Linked DNA regions of Homo sapiens: region 2 is linked to region 1. Evidence: fine-mapped expression QTL. A gene starts in region 1. The other region holds a variant in brackets. All regions are shown on one strand. Distances are between the middles of the regions.

Evidence for each region. PIP is the estimated chance that this variant, and not a neighbour inherited with it, causes the effect. A credible set is the group of variants that fine-mapping cannot tell apart.
Region 2: its variant is the best candidate, but not a certain one, in a credible set for the expression of CHST4 in adrenal gland (GTEx, PIP 0.53).

The regions. Positions count from the first base shown.
Region 1 is chr16:71,520,918-71,531,186 of GRCh38, forward strand. It overlaps CHST4 (carbohydrate sulfotransferase 4), which reads left to right and starts at 5,509. Exons shown (of 2, transcript NM_001166395.2): 1 at 5,509-5,578. RefSeq lists an enhancer at 5,142-5,752.
Region 2 is chr16:71,599,943-71,610,211 of GRCh38, forward strand. All of the region lies in intron 2 of LOC105371334 (a long non-coding RNA gene), which reads right to left. Among named protein-coding and RNA genes, the nearest start is that of MARVELD3, 21 kb to the right of the region's middle. RefSeq lists a silencer at 8,032-8,081. The variant A/G (reference allele first, on the strand shown) is at 5,573.

The DNA.
Region 1 (10,269 bases):
CAGCACCCAGGAACTCCTGTGATATCCCCTGGAGAACTACCTAGTCCCTCAGTGCTCCGTGATCTATCTCTTCTTTCTCCCTCAGTCAAGACTCTTTCTCTCTCTCTCTCTCTCTCTCTCTCTCTCTCTCTCTCTCTCTCTCTCTCTCTCTCTCTCTCACTCTCTGAGATGGAATTTCACTCTTGTTGCCCAGGCTGGAGTGCAATGGCATGACCTCAGCTCACCACAGCCTCCGCCTCCCAGGTTCAAGCGATTCTCCTGCCCCAGCCTCCCGAGTGGCTGGGATTACAGGCATGAGCCACCACACCCAGCTAATTTTGTATTTTTAGTAGAGATGGAGTTTCTCCATGTTGGTCAGGCTGGTCTCGAACTCCCGACCTCAGGTGATCCGCCCGCCTTGGCCTCCCAAAGTGCCGGGATTACAGGCATAAGCCACCATGCCCAGCCCAAAAATCTTGTTCCTTCAACCAAGCTGACTCCAGATGCTTTGCATTGTTTGGAGAAGTGGTGATGCAGTTTCTCAATGTCTAGAGTTTCAACAACACCCCTACCCTGGCCTCCACGTCACCATTGCCAAGAGTAAAGAGAGAGCACCCCAGCCTCTTCCAGCAGGTACTTCACACTGCCCTTCCCCAAGTTTTCAGTTTGGCCACCACTATCTTCCTGGAGGCCATCATTATCTGTTATTATTTCCTTTATCCTGGTTTATGCCAGTCACACAAGTAGCCCAGGATCCTCAGTTGTTCCTTATCCCTTGTGTTTCATCCCAAATGGCTCCAAATGTCTCATTTTCTGACCCCATTTCCCACCCTCCCCATCCCGACACCCTTGTTGGGATCCACAAAATCCATCTTTTCTCGAAGTGTCTTAATTTCCTCTTCACTTTCTTGCTCTAAAGGAAACTAGGTCTCCCTTGAAGACACTGCTTTCTCTGCAGTCCTCTCAAGTGGTGGCTGTTTCTTACACTCCACAATGGAATAAGTTTTCTTGTTCCTCATTGCTGCTTCCAGATTATTCTGGCTCCCTCCTTCCTAAACATTTCCAGCTTTCACTCTGATATTAACCAGACTATATGGCCCTCATTACAGTCATATGACCCCTGCCACTCTCCAACTCTACTCCTGGGACAATTCTACATGAACTCAATATCCTTAGAGATGATACTTTCAAAGCCCTGATGTCTCAAATCCTTGACCTCCTCACTCCCAAAAAACTTGCCCTCCAACTTAGTTCAGCTATAATCTTTCTGTCCTTCTTTCTCCTCTTAACCAGCTTAGATTCCATGGTTCATTATCATAATTACACCTTTGAATATCCCCTAGGCTCCCTTGCCTCTCTAATACTTCATTGTACTCTTCCAGAAAAGCAGAGGTCTTACTTAAATCTAACTCTCCACTTATCCCCACACAAGTAGTAGTAGCCGAACAGGGCTGGAAAAACTACACACCTCTGCTATCTGCTTTCATTTTAAGTTTATGACCACTCACCTTCGGCTTCACTCATCTATCTTACCTCATTACCCTAGCATAGTCACTAACGTATCCTCACAGGTGGCCACTCCATATCTTCCTCTCTCTTCAGGCTTCCATTAACTCCTTCCCCATCCTCAGACTCAGCTGACAACCTTATCCCCTCACTCACTAGGAAAATAAAAGCAATAAGAAGGGAGTTTCCACAAATTCCCAGCACATCATCTACCCACCTACCTGCAACCTCCACTCCCTGAGTTCAAGCTATTCTCCTGCCTCGGCCTCTCGAGTAGCTGGGATTACAGGTCTATGCCACCACACCTGGTGGATTTTTGTATTTTTAGTAGAGACACGGTTTCGCCATGTTGGCCAGGCTGGTCTCGAACTCCTGACCTCTGGCGATTCACCCACCTTGGCCTCCCAAAGTGCTGGGATTACAGGCGTGAGCCACCACACCTGGCCGAGAGACACCAACTCTTAAAAGGTGCCTAACTAAGCATCTCGAGGAATTTGTACTGTGTCTCTAATGAGCTCTTTTGTAGCATTTTCATCAGGGAAATGCTGGGGATCAGATCCATCCTAGGAAAGATCATTCTAGCTGCAGCATAGAGTGGGAAGGCTGGAGGGCATAAGATTGGGGATATGGGAAAAAGTGAGAGACTGTTGGCAGAAATTCAAGCAAAAAAAAAATTGAAAGGCAGACTGAAGACAGGGGCTGTTGACATATAAAGGAGGGCAAATTTGACAGCTATTTAAGGTTATTTTACCTTTAGACAGACATTGGTGATCAATGTGATACATGAGGTGACAGTCCACCGGAAGACACACTGATAGTCTCCCCAGATTTCATCCCCAGAAACTCCCTGACTAAATCATCACGGGTCACCTGAAGCAGTCTCTGACAGTTTTTGGAAGACCAGAGGTAGAATTTCAGGAGCCTGATTCCAGATAAAGCCACAATTATGCAGCAATGTTATGTTCCTGAACCATCAAAGACATATAAGGGATGCCTGAGTTTTACTAGGAGCTCCTGGCTCATTATTTCCTATTTTCCCATCCCCTCTGCCCTTCAAGGGAGCAACAAAAAAGCAAGAACCAGTGAAAAACTTAAAACTGTGTTCGTTTTTTCCCTAATCTATTCTAGTCCAACTTATTCTCCCACTGTTGAAACAAATATTTCTAACACAGATAAGGGACATCGTATTGCTGGGGGATTCCCTACACAGATGTCCACCACCAGGGCCCAGCTCAAGGAAGCAAGTTCTACTGAAAGCAATTACCCATTTGATAATAGGATTTACAGCAACCAAGATTTCCTTCCTGGCTTGCAGACACTTCTTCCGAAGGCGCTGGCTCCCTGTGATGCTAAGATCCAGTCTCTATAGACTTCAGAAACTTAGCCAAACTACAAAGCCCTCCAGAATCTATTCTCTAAACTCAGCCACTTAGCCAGTGACCTACTCAGGCCAGACACTGGCTTTGGTAAGCAAAACAGGGCTGGTGACCAATGTAGGGAGTGACATGTTCCTCAACAGTTTCAGGCCTGGACATCTGCATTGCAGGCTGATGCTTAGCGTAAAAAAATGAGGAATGCTAGAGCCCCCATAAGAAAAGAAACTCAAGGAAGCATCACTGTCCTTTCAGTGTCACTAGGGACAGAAAAGATATGTAGGTAAGTGTGGAAGTGAAGAAACTGCAATCTCATTTGGAGTGATGGTCAGGGTAAGGTAGCAGGAGTAGGTAGTATAACCAGCAGAAAGATCCTTTTGACCCCTGAGAAAATCAGAGTCTAGGTCAGTAGCTGACCCCAGGTCTCTTCACCACTCAGGTGGGTCCCCAGACAGTAAAGATGGTAAACTTCCAAGGGCAAAGATGAGATCAGCGACTCCGCTGAATAGTGGTCCCCAGGAGACAATTGTCTAAATCACTTCAAGTACACACAGCCTTTTGTACGGATTTTAAACTTGGGATTCCTTGGCATTGCACATGATTTTGTGTTTGTATATGAGCAATTGTACATTTTTCTACAGAGGTCTATATCTGTTATCAGATTTTGGAGACTCAAAAAGAAAAAGATTAGATCTCTTACTTGACTGCACGATCCAATATGGTTGCACTAGCACGTTTCAGGTGGACAGTGGCTACTGTATAGTGCAGATATGGAACATTTCCATCATCACAGAGACTGTTATTGGACAGTGCTGCCTTAGAGACGTGGGCTGCAGGACTTCCACAAGAAGGCCTGGATATCAGACACCAGCATTCAAATTTCTTCCCAGTGCTGTGGAATGTGGTAGACCCTTGGAAGTCCAGTATCTGAACATGCTGGTCACCACCGTATACTAGTGACCAGAGGATGCCTTTCTTCAGCTGCTTGGCATTCTGCCAGCATGAATTCCTAGCACGGGAAAGATGGCAGGTGATCTGAATTACTTGGGGTTATGGTGTATTTGAGTGACCTCACTATATTTGGGAAGGCGCTGGAAAAACACGAAAAGAATGTTAGAAAGGGCTGGAATAAAACTACAGGAGTCCCCTCTTTATCCACGGTTTTGTTTCCCAGTTTTAACTACTCATCATCAACCACGATTTGAAAATATTAAATGGGAAAATTACAGAAATAAACAGTTCATTTATTACATACTATTCTGAGTAGCATGATGAAGCCTTGTGCCATCTCGCTGTGTCGTGCCAGCACCTGAATCATCTCTTTGTGCATAAAAGCAAAACTACCGACTGCCCAGTTCTAGTGCTTCCAGTTACACCTCTGCCCAAAGTCCTTCACTGGAGGAAGAGAAATTTCTCTTCTCTCTGCCAGAGAGAAACAGGAAGGGAGGAAGAGCCACACAATTGAAATCAAGTCAAGGCAAGCACCACAGGTTCTTGTCATTTGTGCTTAGCGGACTTAGCTGATGGAAATCGGCAAAGATCATCCCAAAGCTCACACAACTCCCTGCCTGCTCTCTCTCTCTTCCAAGGTCTGGAAAAGGAAGTGGCAGCTGAGTTGCGGGGGTGGGTGGCGGTGGGAAGGTATTATTATTCAACCACTTTTTAACTCTTATATTGTCATATTATTGTGTTAGGAGCTTCATACGCATTAATCCTAACATTCACAACAATACTGTAAAATAGATATTGTTACCCTTATTTAACACCGATGATATTCTAGGGCTCAAAGAGGTGGTATGACTTGCCCGGCAAGATCTTGGACTTGAAAGTCTGAGGCTTCCATTCTCCACCACAATTTACGTTTATTCACGGGCATCCATTGTTTCAGACTCATGACAACCGTGTAAAGTAGCACGGAGTAGGTAAGTGATTTGCCCAAGGGCACACAGCAAGGGAGAGGTTGTAATCTTTAATGATAATTTGTTTCTTTTTTTCTTAAAGGGGACTTTTTTTTCTCCTGTACCACCAAGCCAGTACATCTATGTCCTCCCAGAAAATATTTATTACCTCTTGTAGCAAGGGTGAAGATATTGAATACAACACAGAGGCTGAGAAATGTTACCTCCCTAGACCCAGGGTGGAGTGAGCAGGCAGGTGTAATGCAAGAAATAACTTTCACATTTTCTCCTTGGAGATAAGAACAAGGTCTAAAAATCAGGTTTGAGATTTTGTAGCCTTTCGGCTTGTAAGTGTCATGAAATTTCCCTATCAGCCTCATCTACTAGCTCCCTGGGTCTCTCTCTCTCTCTTTCTCTTTTTCCCCACCTCCCCACTCTGCCCATAGGGAGTTGACCTTCACAGTTGCCTTTCAGTAGTCAACATGCCAGGATGCCTCCAGTCTGGGGGAAAATGCTTCCTCATTTGCTTCTCCCAGCCCACCTCAAGCAGTCTCCCCACCCCTTGAGTCTCAGCAGTGTTAAAGCTGTTACTTTCACAGCTTCCTGGGAGCGAGTGCTTTCTCAAGCCCGTCTTGCAAGGTGGGTCCTTTTTTGTTTTTGGCAGAAGGGAGGGACAGTGAAATGTGCTCTGAGTAGGGACGGTTATGCAAAAGCAAGTAGGAGGAGGAAGCCAAGAGGGGAGTTGGTGAGTCAGAGGAGAAAAGCGCATGGCCCGGCTAGCAGTGAGCCTCTCAAAAGCAGCAGGGAAGCCCAAGCCACAAGGTAAGAAGAGAATTTCTGTGTACGACTCCAATGCAGAGCCATTACCCAGAGCTGCTGGAGCAAGAGTATCAGATAACCTCTGGCAGCTAAGCTAGAGATTACAGTGGCGAAGGCGGTTTGCGCAGAGGGGATAAATCAGATCACCTGGGGAATTTTCTGGGTAAAATAAAACACAAGCTGCTTACCAGCAGCCCCCAAGCCCCACTAGCTCTATCCCTAAATGGGTCCAAAAGAGCCCAGAGAGCAGATCAGGCTGTTCTGATGTATATTTTGTAGATGGTCCCCTGGTGCCAACTGACTCGTTCAGATCCTGGCTTTGGAGCTCAAATTTCTGTACTTCCTGCAGCTTCTCCTCTGTTTTCTGCTGGGGAGTGGAAGACAGGAGGTGCAAGGAGCTGTAGGTTTTCTCTAGCTCAGGAGAGGGACAGTGTGATCATTGAAAATTCTCAGCCCTGGGATCCCCAAAACCTGGGTTCTGATCCAGAAAAGGCTATTTATACCGGATGAGCCAGTCAATTAAAGTTTAGTTTATTTATTCTGAAAAATGAAGAAATGTCTCATCACTGTCTAAAATATCTAACCGATCAGTATCATAATTGCAGCTAAAAGGGCTTTAAAAATGTGGAACACCACGCACATGTGCAATATGATTAAGTTATGGTGCCAACATATCAGCTATGGTAGAAGATACGTCTATCTTGCATGGCCTTGGACAAGTATGAAACTTCTAATTGGAATTGAAATACTTTTCTATGTGTAAAATAAATGTAATATTGTCGATGAAAAGAGTCAGACTCTGTGACATATTTGAAGAGATTTATTCTGAGCCAAATATGAGTGACCATGGCCGGTGACACAGCCCTCAGGAGGTCCTGAGAACATGTGTCTAAGGTGGTCGGGGTGCAGCTTGGTTTTATACACTTTAGGGAGACATGAGACTTCAATCAAATACATTTAAGAAATACATCTAGCCAGGCGCGATGGCTCGCGCCTGTAATCCCAGCACTTTGGGAAGCTGAGGCAGGTGGATCACCTGAGGCCAGGAGTTCAAGACCAGCCCGGCCAACATGGCGAAACCCTGTCTGTACTAAAAATACCAAAAAAATTAGCTGGGCATGGTGGCAGGCACCTGTAATCCCAGCTACTCAGGAGGCTGAGGCAGGAGAATCGCTTGAAACCGGGAGGCTGCAGTGAGCCGAGATCCTGCCATTGCACTCTAGCCTGGGCAACAAGAGCAAAACTCCATCTCAAAAAAGAAAAAAGAAAAGAAAAAAGTACGGGTCTGTCGCCCAGGCTGGAGTGCAGTGGTGCGATCTCGGCTCACTGCAACTGAGAGGAAGCCTTCAGATAGCAGGCTTCAGAGAGAATAGGTTGTAAAATGTTTCTTATCAGACTTAAGGTCTGTGTTGGTGTTAATGCTGGAGAGGTATGATGAGGCATGTTAGATCCCCACTTCTTGTCATGGCCTGAAACAGTCTCTCAGGTTAAATTTTAAAAAGACCCCTGGCTGGGCACAGTGGCTCATGGGTGTAATCACAGCACTATTAGGAGACTGAGGTCACTTGAGGTCAGGAGTTCGAGACCTGCCTGGCCAACATGGCAAAACCATGTCTGTACTAAAAATACAAAAAATTAGCCAGGTCACTCGGGAGGCTGAGGCAGGAGAAGCGCTTGAACCTGAGGAGTCGAGGTTGCAGTGAGCTGAGATCGTGCCACTGCACTCCAGCCTGGACAACAGAGCAAGACTTCATTTCAAAAAAAAAAAAAAAAAAAAGAGTCCTGGCTGAGGAGGAAGTCCTTTCAGATGGTTGGGGGGCCTTAGAATTTTATTTTTGGTTTATAATATCTTGCTCAATCTTCCTTTCTGGGTCTCATATAGTAAAAAAAAAAACACTGTACAAATATATGTTCACTTGTCATTTGTTGAAAGATGTTCCTTGAGCACCTACTATGTGCCATGCACTGTCCTTGGCACTAGTGACACAGCCCTGGCGGGACCCAGGTCCAATCCTCCTGACACTGTCTAGGAAGAGTTTGTTATATGGACACCCTTTACCCAGGTGCCTAGCTTCAGAGGTTTTCCAGGTCTTCAGGCTGCTTGTGAGGATGCCAGTTTCCCCAATCCAACCCCATTCTCTCTCTCTTTGCTCAAGGTATCTTCTGCTGTATCTAATTTCTACTTGTAAGGGGCATAATCTCATGGGAAGTGTAAGTTAGGAATGCATCCAGTGGCTGGAACCCAGACTTCTTAAATTAGTATCTATCTGGTTTTTTTCCCCCTCAGAATTTCCCATTTTGTCTCTACGAGGCTACATGGTACCGATTTGGGGGACATCTATAATTCAGCCCACTCTAATCAGCTGCTGCTTGAGGTCACCCATCTGGCACCTTCGTGGTTCCTGTGCCAAACATAGATTCTCCCTTCTCACCACCCTTTGGTGGCGTTTTCAAGTTCCTAAGGTTCTCTTGACTCCTCAGAAATGGCTGTCCTTTGTGTTTTAAGATGATACCGTTCACCCATCGTTGGGGCAACATTTTTTTAAATTAATTTTTTGGGGTGGTGATGATGGAATGTGCTGAGTTTGGGTTTTTTGTTTTGTTTTTGTTTTTTGTTTTTTTTTTTTTGCTTTTGCTTTGTTAGCCTAGTAACTGAGCTGATTCAAGCAAGGTAGCCTATCACCCAGCAATGAGGCTTTTATTTTTTAAATGTTTTCTAAAACTAATTTTCATACAGGAAGAGAAAAATAATTTCCCTCCTGGTTTTAATTAATGCATGCTTGGTATAGTAACTGTTTTTTGGACCAAGGGTTACTGTGCCATACTGCATCTAACCCATGCCTCTGACTTTATTAGTAGCTTGGTCCAAGTAACTGAGACGGCATGGGTAATGTGCTCACTGTTCCATGCAATCACCTAAATTTTAGTCACTGATGCTGAAGAGTGTCCGTGTGCATTTCAGAAAAGGATACTTATGTTTCATTCTCTTGAAGGAGCTCCTTTAGTTTTCTGCTTTCTAGCAATTACTGTGCCTCTTCCCATGCTCATCTATTTTTTTTTTTTTTTTTTTTTTTTTTTTTTTGAGACCAAGTTTCGCTCTGTTGACCAGGCTGGAGTGCAGCGGTGTGATCTTGATCAGGAGATCAAGCCCACACTCATCTATTTACTCACTTACTCATTTATTTAGCAAGTGTTTAATGAGCCGAGCCCTGATCATTTGTAGAATTGTTATGTACGTGTAAGTAAGATAAGATACAGCCTTTCCCTTAAGCTATAGTGGCCCAGAGAAAAGAGAGGCACCCATACAGGCTTTTACTGTCAAAAGGGATGGCTGCTAACAGAAGGTCTGGGAAACAAATTAATCTCAAGAGGGGGCTGGGCGCGGTGCTTCACACCTGTGATCCCAGCACTTTGGCAGGCCGAGGCGGGAGAATCACCTGAGGTCAGGGGTTCGAGACCAGCCTGACCAACATGGCGAATCCCCATTTCCACTAGAAATACAAAAATTAGCTGGGCGTGGCTGTAATCCCAGCTCCTGGGGAGGCTGAGGCAGGAGAATCGCTTGAATCTAGGAGGCAGAGGTTGCGGTGAGCTGAGATCATGCCACTGCACTCCAGCCTGGGCGACAGAGCAAGACTCTGTCTAAAAAATAAAATTAAAAAAAAAAAGTCTCAGGAGAAAGAGACAGAACTTCTTTCAGGGAGAAGGCAGGCTCTCCCTTTCAGGGAGAAGGCAGGTTAGATTCTTGAAGGAATAGTAGCTGTCCTGCAAAAATCTCAGGGCTTTTAAATAACAGGGCAAGTTTGGAAGAACTGAAAGTCGGGAGCCTAAGGCACTAAAACAGAAGGGAGTGACAGGAAATCAAGACCAGGCCATGAAGGACCCCAGGTGCGAGGTGTGGGGATGTTTATTTAATCCCATATACACTGGAAATTTATTGAAGGATTTTTAAGCAGGAAGTTGATAGACTTATGCTTTAAAAAGATATTTTGGCCAGGTGCGGTGGCTCACACCTGTAATCCCAGCACTTTGGGAGGCCAAGGCTGGAAGGTGGCTTGAGGTCAGGAGTTTGACACCAGCCTGGGCAATATAGTGAGGGCCAGTCTCTAGTAAAAAATGAAAAAATTATCTGGGTGTGATTGGACACACCTGTGATCCCAGCTACTGGGGAGGCTGAGACAGGAGGATCGAAAATCACTTGAGCCCAGGAGTTCAAGGCTGCAGTGAGCTATGATCATGCCACTGTACTCCACCCTGGGCAACAGAGTGAGACCCCCGACTCTAAAAAAGGAAAAAAAAGATTTTGGGCCAGGCGTGGTGGCTCACACCTGTAATCCCAGCACTTTGGGAGGCCGAGGCAGGTGGATCACTTGAGGTTAGGAGTTTGAGACCAGCCTGGCCAACATGGCGAAACCCTGTCTCTACTAAAAACACAAAAATTAGCTGGGCACGGTGGTGGGCACCTGTAATCCCAGCCACCTGGGAGGCTGAGGCACAGGAATCACTTGAACCCAGGAGGCAGAAGTTGCAGTGAGCTGAGATCACTGACAGAGTGAGACTCTGTCCCAAAAGAATAAATAGTAATTTAAAAAAAATGAAAAAGGTAGTTTTTGGCAGCAGTGGGTCATGGGGAGATGCTGAGAGACAGAAGAGAAAGGTCGATGTCAAAGGCCACCCTAGACACAAACAGCTGG
Region 2 (10,269 bases), 79 kb after region 1:
TGAAACCCCGTCTCTACTAAAAATACAAAAAAATTAGCCGGGTGTGGTGGCGGGTGCCTGGAGTCCCAGCTACTCGGGAGGCTGAGGCAAGAGGAATGGCGTGAACCTGGGAGGCGGAGCTTGCAGCGAGCCGAGATCGCGCCACTGCACTCCAGCCTGGGCGACAGAGCAAGATTCCATCTCAAAAAAATAAAAAACAAAAAACTTTTTGCTCCAGCCTGGCCAACATGGTGAAACCTCGTCTCTACAAAAAAAATACAAAAATAAGTTGGATATGGTGGCATGTGCCTATAATCCCAGCTACTCCAGAGGCTGAGGCAGGAGAATCACTTGAACCCGGGAGGCAGAGGTTGCAGTGAGCTGAGATCACGCCACTGCACTCCAGCCTGAGTGAGGCTGACTCAAAAAAATAAATAAATAAATAAAAATTTTTAAAAAAACATAAATAAACAAAAAAAATTAAAAATTAGCACCTGCAGATTGTCCTGGCTGCTTGGGAGGCCAAGGTGGGAGGATGGCTTGAGCCCGAGAGTTTGAGGCTGCAGTGAGCTATGATCATACCGCTGCACTCCAGCCTCGGCCACGGAGCAAGACCCTGTCTCTAAATTAAAAAAAAAAATTAAGAAACAGAAAAAAAGAAATAGATCATTTGTTCCTCTGTGTGAAAGTTAACTTGGAGCAAATTCTGGGGGATAGGGGATGTGGAGGTAAAGACTGCAGCCTGCTGGGGGTGACATGCATTCCCAGAGAAGGAAAAGATGCTGAATGGAGAAGTCTCAACGTGGTGAACAGCACTCTTTGTTTGTGTCCAGACTGTACTGGAAACTGGCTCTTAGAGTCAGAGTTCCAGAGTTCCACCCTCCTTGGTCCTAGCCTGCTTCTTGCTTTCATCCACCTTCCTTGGGAGATTGTGAAACCCACGTTGGGAATCACCAACACCAAGGTACGATTGGGAGAGGCGGGGCATGAGAGCAGGATAGGGCACACAGCGAACATCAGTGTGCAGAAGGTCGCCCAGGCCCACAGATGGGCTGATGCAGGTGCCGTTCCTTGGCAAGGACTGTCCATGTGTCATCACTGACCTCTTCAGGTCTAGAGAACTGCAGTTTTCTCCAGCACCTCCTGGACTTCATCCATGGGTGCTATGACAGAAAACAGAACGATGTTCAGAGGGCACTGTGCAGTCCTCAAACCGTGGAGAGGCCCAGAAGAGAGACAAATAACTACACAGGACTCCAATCTGCTATGGCTATGTTTCAGATGTAGGCCACAACAGTTCTCTTTGTTTGGAAAAACAAAGTGGCAAAACACATTGTGACACAAAAAGATCTCAGCCGGGCGCAGTGGCTCATGCCTGTAATCCCAGCACTTTGGGAAGCCGAAGCAGGCAGATCAAGAGATCAGGAGATCAAGACCATCCTGGCTAACACGGTGAAACTCCATCTCTACTAAAAATCCAAAAAATTAGCCGGGCATGGTGGCGGGCGCCTGAAGTCCCAGCTACTCAGGAGGCTGAGGCAGGAGAACGGCGTGAACGCAGGAGGTGGAGCTTGCAGTGAGCCGAGATGGTACCACTGCACTCCAGCCTGGGTGACAGAGCAAGACTCCGTCTCAAAAAAAAAAAAAGATCTCTATTCTTCGGTCCAGGAATTTTACTCTTGAGAATGTATCCTAAAAAATAAATGGCGTGGAAATAAATCTTTGGTCTATAGTGTTTAAAATCCTGGACTTCAGTATTAGAGAAACCCAGATTTTGAATCCAGTATCTACCACTTAAGTCAACTGTGACCTTGGATGAGTTACTTAACTTCCACTTCCTCACCCGCAAAACGAAGATAATAATTTTCCTACTTTGAGCTGGGCATGGTGGCGTGTGCCTGCAATCCTAGCTACTCGGGAAGCTGAGGCAGGAAGACTGCTTGAGCCCAGGAGTTCAAGATAAGCTTTGGCAAAATAGCGAGATCCCTCTTGCTCTCAAAATAATAATAATCATCATCATCATCATCTTCCTATTTCACAGAGTTTTTGAGAAATATGTAAGATAATGCAGTAAAGATCAGTGCATAGAAGGCCAGGCGCGGTGGCTCATGCCTGTAATCCCAGCACTTTGGGAGGCCGAGGCGGGAGGATCACCTGAGGTTGGGAGTTCGAGACCAGCCCCACCAACATGGAGAAACCCCGTCTCTACTGAAAATACAAGAAAGTATCCAGGCGTGGTGGCGGGCACCTGTAGTCCCAGCTACTTGGAGAGGGTGAGGCAGGAGAATGGCATGAACCCGGGAGGCAGAGCTTGCAGTGAGCCAAAATTGCGCCACTGCACTCCAGCCTGGGTGGCAGAGCGAGACTCTGTCTCAAAATAATAATAATAATAATAATAAATAAAATGTAAATAATATTTTTGCAGACAAAGCCTTTATAGGATATGCAAAAATGAAAATAGTACATAGTTAGAGGAGGGGTTATTTTTTACATTATTACATTACTTTTAAAATTAATAAGGCTAGGAGTACTGGCTCACTCCTGTAATCCCAGCTGTTTGGGAAGCCAAGATGGGTGTATTGCTTGAGGACAGGAGTTTGAGACCAGCCTGACCAACATGGCAAAATTCTGTCTCTACTAAAAATACAAAAATTAGCTGTACGTGGTGGTGTGCACCTGTAATCCCAGCTACTCAGGAGGCTGAGACAGGAGAATAACTTGAACCCAGGAGGCGGAGGTTGCAGTGAGCCAAGATTCTACCATTGCACTCCAGCCTGGGTGACAGACTGAGACTCTGTCTAAAAAAATAAATAAATAAAATTAATATATATACATGATTTTATAGACCTTTTCTGAAAACAAGGGATGCTTTGAAAAAGGCGTCACAATCTGGGAAAATTCTTTTTTTTTTTTTTATTATACTTTAAGTTTTAGGGTACATGTGCACATTGTGCAGGTTAGTTACATATGTATACATGTGCCATGCTGGTGCGCTGCACCCACTAACTCGTCATCTAGCATTATGTATATCTCCCAATGCTATCCCTCCCCCCTCCCCCCACCCCACCACAGTCCCCAGAGTGTGATATTCCCCTTCCTGTGTCCATGTGATCTCATTGTTCAATTCCCACCTATGAGTGAGAATATGTGGTGTTTGGTTTTTTGTTCTTGCGATAGTTTACTGAGAATGATGATTTCCAATTTCATCCATGTCCCTACAAAGGACATGAACTCATCATTTTTATGGCTGCATAGTATTCCATGGTGTATATGTGCCACATTTTCTTAATCCAGTCTATCATTGTTGGACATTTGGGTTGGTTCCAAGTCTTTGCTATTGTGAATAATGCCGCAATAAACATACGTGTGCATGTGTCTTTATAGCAGCATGATTTATAGTCCTTTGGGTATATACCCAGTAATGGGATGGCTGGGTCAAATGGTATTTCTAGTTCTAGATCCCTGAGGAATCGCCACACTGACTTCCACAATGGTTGAACTAGTTTACAGTCCCACCAACAGTGTAAAAGTGTTCCTATTTCTCCACATCCTCTCCAGCACCTGTTGTTTCCTGACTTTTTAATGATTGCCATTCTAACTGGTGTGAGATGGTATCTCATTGTGGTTTTGATTTGCATTTCTCTGATGGCCAGTGATGATGAGCATTTTTTCATGTGTTTTTTGGCTGCATAAATGTCTTCTTTTGAGAAGTGTCTGTTCATGTCCTTCGCCCACTTTTTGATGGGGTTGTTTGTTTTTTTCTTGTAAATTTGTTTGAGTTCATTGTAGATTCTGGATATTAGCCCTTTGTCAGATGAGTAGGTTGTGAAAATTTTCTCCCATTTTGTAGGTTGCCTGTTCACTCTGATGGTAGTTTCTTTTGCTGTGCAGAAGCTCTTTAGTTTAATTAGATCCCATTTGTCAATTTTGTCTTTTGTTGCCATTGCTTTTGGTGTTTTGGACATGAAGTCCTTGCCCATGCCTATGTCCTGAATGGTAATGCCTAGGTTTTCTTCTAGGGTTTTTATGGTTTTAGGTCTAACGTTTAAGTCTTTAATCCATCTTGAATTGATCTTTGTATAAGGTGTAAGGAAGGGATCCAGTTTCAGCTTTCTACATATGGCTAGCCAGTTTTCCCAGCACCATTTATTAAATAGGGAATCCTTTCCCCATTGCTTGTTTTTCTCAGGTTTGTCAAAGATCAGATAGTTGTAGATATGTGGCATTATTTCTGAGGGCTCTGTTCTGTTCCATTGATCTATATCTCTGTTTTGGTACCAGTACCATGCTGTTTTGGTTACTGTAGCCTTGTAGTATAGTTTGAAGTCAGGTAGTGTGATGCCTCCAGCTTTGTTCTTTTGGCTTAGGGGATATCACCACCGATCCCACAGAAATACAAACTACCATCAGAGAATACTACAAACACCTCTACGCAAATAAACTAGAAAATCTAGAAGAAATGGATAAATTCCTCGACACATACACTCTCCCAAGACTAAACCAGAAAGAAGTTGAATCTCTGAATAGACCAATAACAGGAGCTGAAATTGTGGCAATAATTAATAGTTTACCAACCAAAAAGAGTCCAGGACCAGATGGATTCACAGCCGAATTCTACCAGAGGTACAAGGAGGAACTGGTACCATTCCTTCTGAAACTATTCCAATCAATAGAAAAAGAGGGAATCCTCCCTAACTCATTTTATGAGGCCAGCATCATTCTGATACCAAAGCCTGACAGAGACACAACCAAAAAAGAGAATTTTAGACCAATATCCTTGATGAACATTGATGCAAAAATCCTCAGTAAAATACTGGCAAAACGAATCCAGCAGCACATCAAAAAGCTTATCCACCATGATCAAGTGGGCTTCATCCATGGGGTGCAAGGCTGGTTCAATATACGCAAATCAATAAATGTAATCCAGCATATAAACAGAGCCAAAGACAAAAACCACATGATTATCTCAATAGATGCAGAAAAAGCCTTTGACAAAATTCAACAATGCTTCATGCTAAAAACTCTCAATAAATTAGGTATTGATGGGACGTATTTCAAAATAATAAGAGCTGTCTATGACAAACCCACAGCCAATATCATACTGAATGGGCAAAAACTGGAAGCGTTCCCTTTGAAAACTGGCACAAGACCGGGATGCCCTCTCTCACCACTCCTATTCAACATAGTGTTGGAAGTTCTGGCCAGGGCAATTAGGCAGGAGAAGGAAATAAAGGGTATTCAATTAGGAAAAGAGGAAGTCAAATTGTCCCTGTTTGCAGATGACATGATTGTATATCTAGAAAACCCCATTGTCTCAGCCCAAAATCTCCTTAAGCTGATAAGCAACTTCAGCAAAGTCTCAGGATACAAAATCAATGTACAAAAATCACAGGCATTCTTATACACCAACAACAGACAAACAGAGAGCCAAATCATGGGTGAACTCCCATTCACAATTGCTTCAAAGAGAATAAAATACCTAGGAATCCAACTTACAAGGGATGTGAAGGACCTCTTCAAGGAGAACTACAAACCACTGCTCAAGGAAATAAAAGAGGATACAAACAAATGGAAGAACATTCCTTGCTCATGG[A/G]TAGGAAGAATCAATATCGTGAAAATGGCCATAGTGCCCAAGGTAATTTACAGATTCAATGCCATCCCCATAAAGCCACCAATGACTTTCTTCACAGAATTGGAAAAAACTACTTGAAAGTTCATATGGAACCAAAAAAGAGCCCGCATCGCCAAGGCAATCCTAAGCCAAAGGGAAAATTCTTAAGGATATTATATATCAGAAGAAGAGTGATAAAGCTGGGTGCCATGGCATGTGCCTGTAATCCCAGCTACTCGGGAGGCTGAGGCGGGAGAACTGCTTGAGACCAACCTGGGCAACATAGTGCAACATCAACTTCATCTCAAAAAAAAAAAAAAAAAAAGGGCCGGGTGCAGTGGCTCACGCCTGTAATCCCAGCACTTTGGGAGGCCAAGGTGGGTGGATCACCTGAGGTCAGGAGTTCAAGACCAGCCTGGCCAACATGGCGAAAACCCATCTCTATTAAAAATACAAAAATTAGCTGGGCATGGTGGCAGGCGCCTGTAATCCCAGCTACCGGGTAGGCTAAGGCAGGAGAATCGCTTGAACCTGGGAGGCAGAGGTTGCAGTGAGCCAAGATCGTGCCATTGCACTCCAGCCTGGGCGACAAAAGCAAAACTCTGTCTCAAAAAAAAAAAAAAGCTATAATTCCCATTTGGGATACCAGTCTCCAAGACAGTCCCAATGACCCTTGCCTTCTGTAATTTAGACCTTGCTGTGTTCCTCCCACATTCCAGGGCTGGCTTGTGTGACCAATAGAATACTGTGGAACTAATAGCATGTGGCTTCCAAGGTAAAACTCAAAAAAGGCATTGCAGGCTGGACACGGTGGCTCACACCCATAATCCCAGAACTTGGGGAGGCCGAGGCGGGTGGATCACTTGAGGCCAGGAGTTCGAGACCAGCCTGGCCAATATGGCAAAAGCCTGTCTCTACTAATTATACAAAAATTAGCCAGACATGGTGGTGCACACCTGTAATCCCAAGTACTCGGGAGGCTAAGGCAGGAGAATCACTTGAACCTGGGAGGCAGAGGTTGCAATGAGCCAAGATTGCGCCACTGCACTCCAGCCTGGGAGACAGAGCAAAAACTCCATCTCAAAAAAAATATCGTTTTTTTTTTAAAGGCATTAAGTTTCCATCTTGGTCTCTTGGCTCTCTTGCTCTGGGAAAAGGCAGCTGCCATATTATGCTGACACCACAGCAGCCCTGTGGAGAGGCTCACCTTGGGCAAGCCAGCTTTGGAGGAGATCCTCAAGCCCTGTGAAGACTCAGGTGTCTCCATCTTGGATGCTAATCCACCATGCTGACTTCTGATTAACCCCAGTCCCCAGGAGTGCCTCCTGATTCCAACGTTGTTTACTGCCCTTTATGTAAGAATATGTACTCACTATAAATCCTCCCTTTAAGCCAAAGCAACCTTGAAGTTATCGTGCAAATTATAGGCTGTGACACACATAGCATTCTTGCCTGTTCTGGAGGGCTGCCTTTAATTCCTTTAATTGCGTCTATACGGCAGGCATGTACACCCCTTCCCTCTGGCGTATAAACCCTCTGGGAAGTAACGGTACAGTGATCTACCTATGTTGCTGCCGTCCAAGACCACACTTCCACCTGTAAATTCCCCAATAATTCATCCTCTACTGACAAACTGGATTCACCTGCCTTGTTCTTTAGTTTCTCCGCTCCTTCTGTGTTTGGGGGTTACTTTGCATACACAGCCCTTCCACAGAATAAGCCCCATTAAAGCCTAAATGACTGCAGTCCCTGACAACCTCTTGGCTGTAATGTCGAGGGAGACTCACAAACCCACAGTCAAGCCGCTCTTGAATTTCTGATCCGCAGTGTGGTAGAGAATATTTTCAGCATTTGTAGTTCATTATTGAATCATCAGTAACTCACTGTTCTCATTTAATGCTATTGATCACCTGCTCCTTCTTGCTAAGGTAATCACCCTTAATATCTTTCACGTTCACTTTTTCTCCCTCCCTAGGCCTCAGCTGGGACCTGCTCTCCCTCCAGAATATTTTGGAATGTTATTTATTTTTTATTTTTCTTTTTTGAGATAGAGTCTCACTCTGTCGCCCAGACTGGAGTGCAGTGGTGCAATCATGACTCACTGCAGCCTCGACATCCTGGGCTCAAATGATCATCCCACCTCAGCCTCCCAAGTAGCTGAGACTACAGACACACACCACCACACCCGGCTAAAAAATTTTTTTTAACAGATAGGGGTCTGCCTATGTAGCCCAGACTGGTCTCCAGCAATCATTCTGCTCTGTCCTCCCGAAGTGTTGCGGTTACAGGCATGAGCCGCCACGCTTAGCCTGAAATGCTTTTTGGTTTTTTTGTTTTGAGACGGAGTCTTGCTGTGTCGCCCAGGCTGGAGTGCAATGGCGCCATCTAGGCTCACTGCAACCTCTGCCTCCCAGATTCAAGCGATTCTCCTGCCTCAGCCTCCTGAGTAGCTGGGACTACAGGTGCGTGCCAACACGCCCGGCTAATTTTCATATTTTTAGTAGAGACGGGGTTTCACCATGTTGGCCAGGCTGGTCTCAAACCCCTGACCTTGTGGTCCGCCCGCGTTGGCCTCCCAAAGTGCTGGAATTATAGGCATGAGCCACCGTGCCTGGCCTGGAATGTTATTTTTATAACAAATTTGACTGAGGTACTTCTCTGATTAAAAGCCATCTCTGGTGGCTCCATACAGCCTGTACTCTCAAACCTAACCCCAACATGAACACATGTATTTATAAATTATATCTATGAACTGCTGTATTAACATACCATTTACATTATAAATCAGATACAGAAAAAGAGATTCCCAAAAAGACAATATTTCCAGATTAAATAGAGGTCTAGGATTTTTTCCCTTCACCACATTGAGAGGTTGTGTGCACCTGCTTGGAGACCACAGACCCAGAGAGAATACACGATCAGTGACTCATTGCCTGAGAACAATGAGTCACTGATGGTCAAATAAATATTCAATGAACTACAGATGCTCAAAATACTCGGTGAATGTCAGGTTCTCAATGAATGTCAGCTGCTACTGGTAGCTGTAAAATTTTTATTACAGAGAAGCTGAGTAAGTTCAAGATTGAAACGTGTCATTTGTGTTTGGAAGATGTCAATGATCTTAGACAGATCATTTTCAGGTTGCCAGGAAGGAGTCAGACTGTGTCTTGGGTGAGAAGAGTAGGAGAAATGACTAACTGCATATGCCTGGCTTTGCAGGCTTCTTATAATCTGACCCCTGCCTCCCTCTTCTGCCTTTTTTCCCTTTACTTCTTCCCTTGTGGTTCAAACGTAAGGATTACAGGGCCGGGAGTGGTGGCTCATGCCTGTAATCCCAGTTCTTTGGGAGGCTGAGGCAGGTGGATCACTTGAGGTCAGGAGTTCGAGACCAGCCTGGCCAACATGGTGAAACCCCATCTCTACTAAAAATACAAAAATTAGCTGGGTGTGGTGACACATGCCTGTAATCTCAGCTACTCAGGGGGCTGAGGCAGGAGAATTGCTTGAACCCGGGAGGCAGAGGTTGCAGTGAGCTGAGATCCTGCCACTGCACTCCAGCCTGGACCATGGAGCAAGACTCCATCTCAAAAAAAAAAAAAAAAAAAGGAAGGATTACAGTCCTACTCATTCCTAAAAACTCTCCTTAAGCACTCTCTCTCCTGGAAGTCACTAAAGGAAACGAAAAACTTTTGCCCCAAAATATACTTCTTTGACACATTTCAAGCTGGCTATTCAGAAGAACTGGAAATACAAGAATAGCTGAAAAGCCGTCTTTTGTGGGAGAGATTTTTATCTATAGAGAAAATCTGCCTTGATGCAGCCAGGCTTTCTCTGAAGCCCTCCTTTGTCCAAATCTAGGGAAGGTTAAGTAAGTGTCTAATACCTTTAAAGGTTTGAAAGGGGTTAGCTGTGTGGGAGGCCAAGGCTGGCAGATCACTTGAGCCCATGAGTTCGAGACCACCCTGGGCAACATAGTGAGACCCCCCCCCCGCCATCTCTACAAAAAATAAAAATAAAAAATAAAGGTTTGAAAGAAACATTCATATCTATTCTCTCTGAGAGTGGTTACCTGTGAAACTTTAGCTACATAACAAGACTACCTTCGCTAGCCAGGCCTGCTCCTTTCCCTCTCCCATAGTCTGTTGTGCCAGAGTCCAACCCCTATTCTTCCTGTAACCTCAAGATGGTATAAAAGCATCCAACCCAGCCTGGGCGCGCCAACCCAGCCCGGGCGCAGTGGCTCACGCCTGTAATCCCAGCACTTTGGGAGGCCAAGGCGAGTGGATCATTTGAGGTCAGGAGTTTGAGATCAGCCTGGCCAACATCGTGAAACCTCTTCTCTACTAAAAATACAAAAATTAGTCAGGTTTGGTGGCACACACCTGTAATCCCAGCTACTTGGAGGCTGAGGCAGGAGAATTGCTTGAACCTGGGAGGCGAAGGTTGCAGTGAGCCAAGATCACACTATTGTACTCCAGGCTGGGCGGCAGCGAGACTCTGTCTCCAAAAAAAAAAAAAAAAAGGCATACAACCCTCTTCCCTTTCTTTGAGATCTTATATTTTGTAAGACTCTCCGACACATTAATAAATTTCTATTTCTCCTATTAATCTGCCTTTTGTCAGTTAATTTTCAGCAACCCTTCAGAGGGCGAAGGGAATGCTCTCCCTTCACTCCTTCG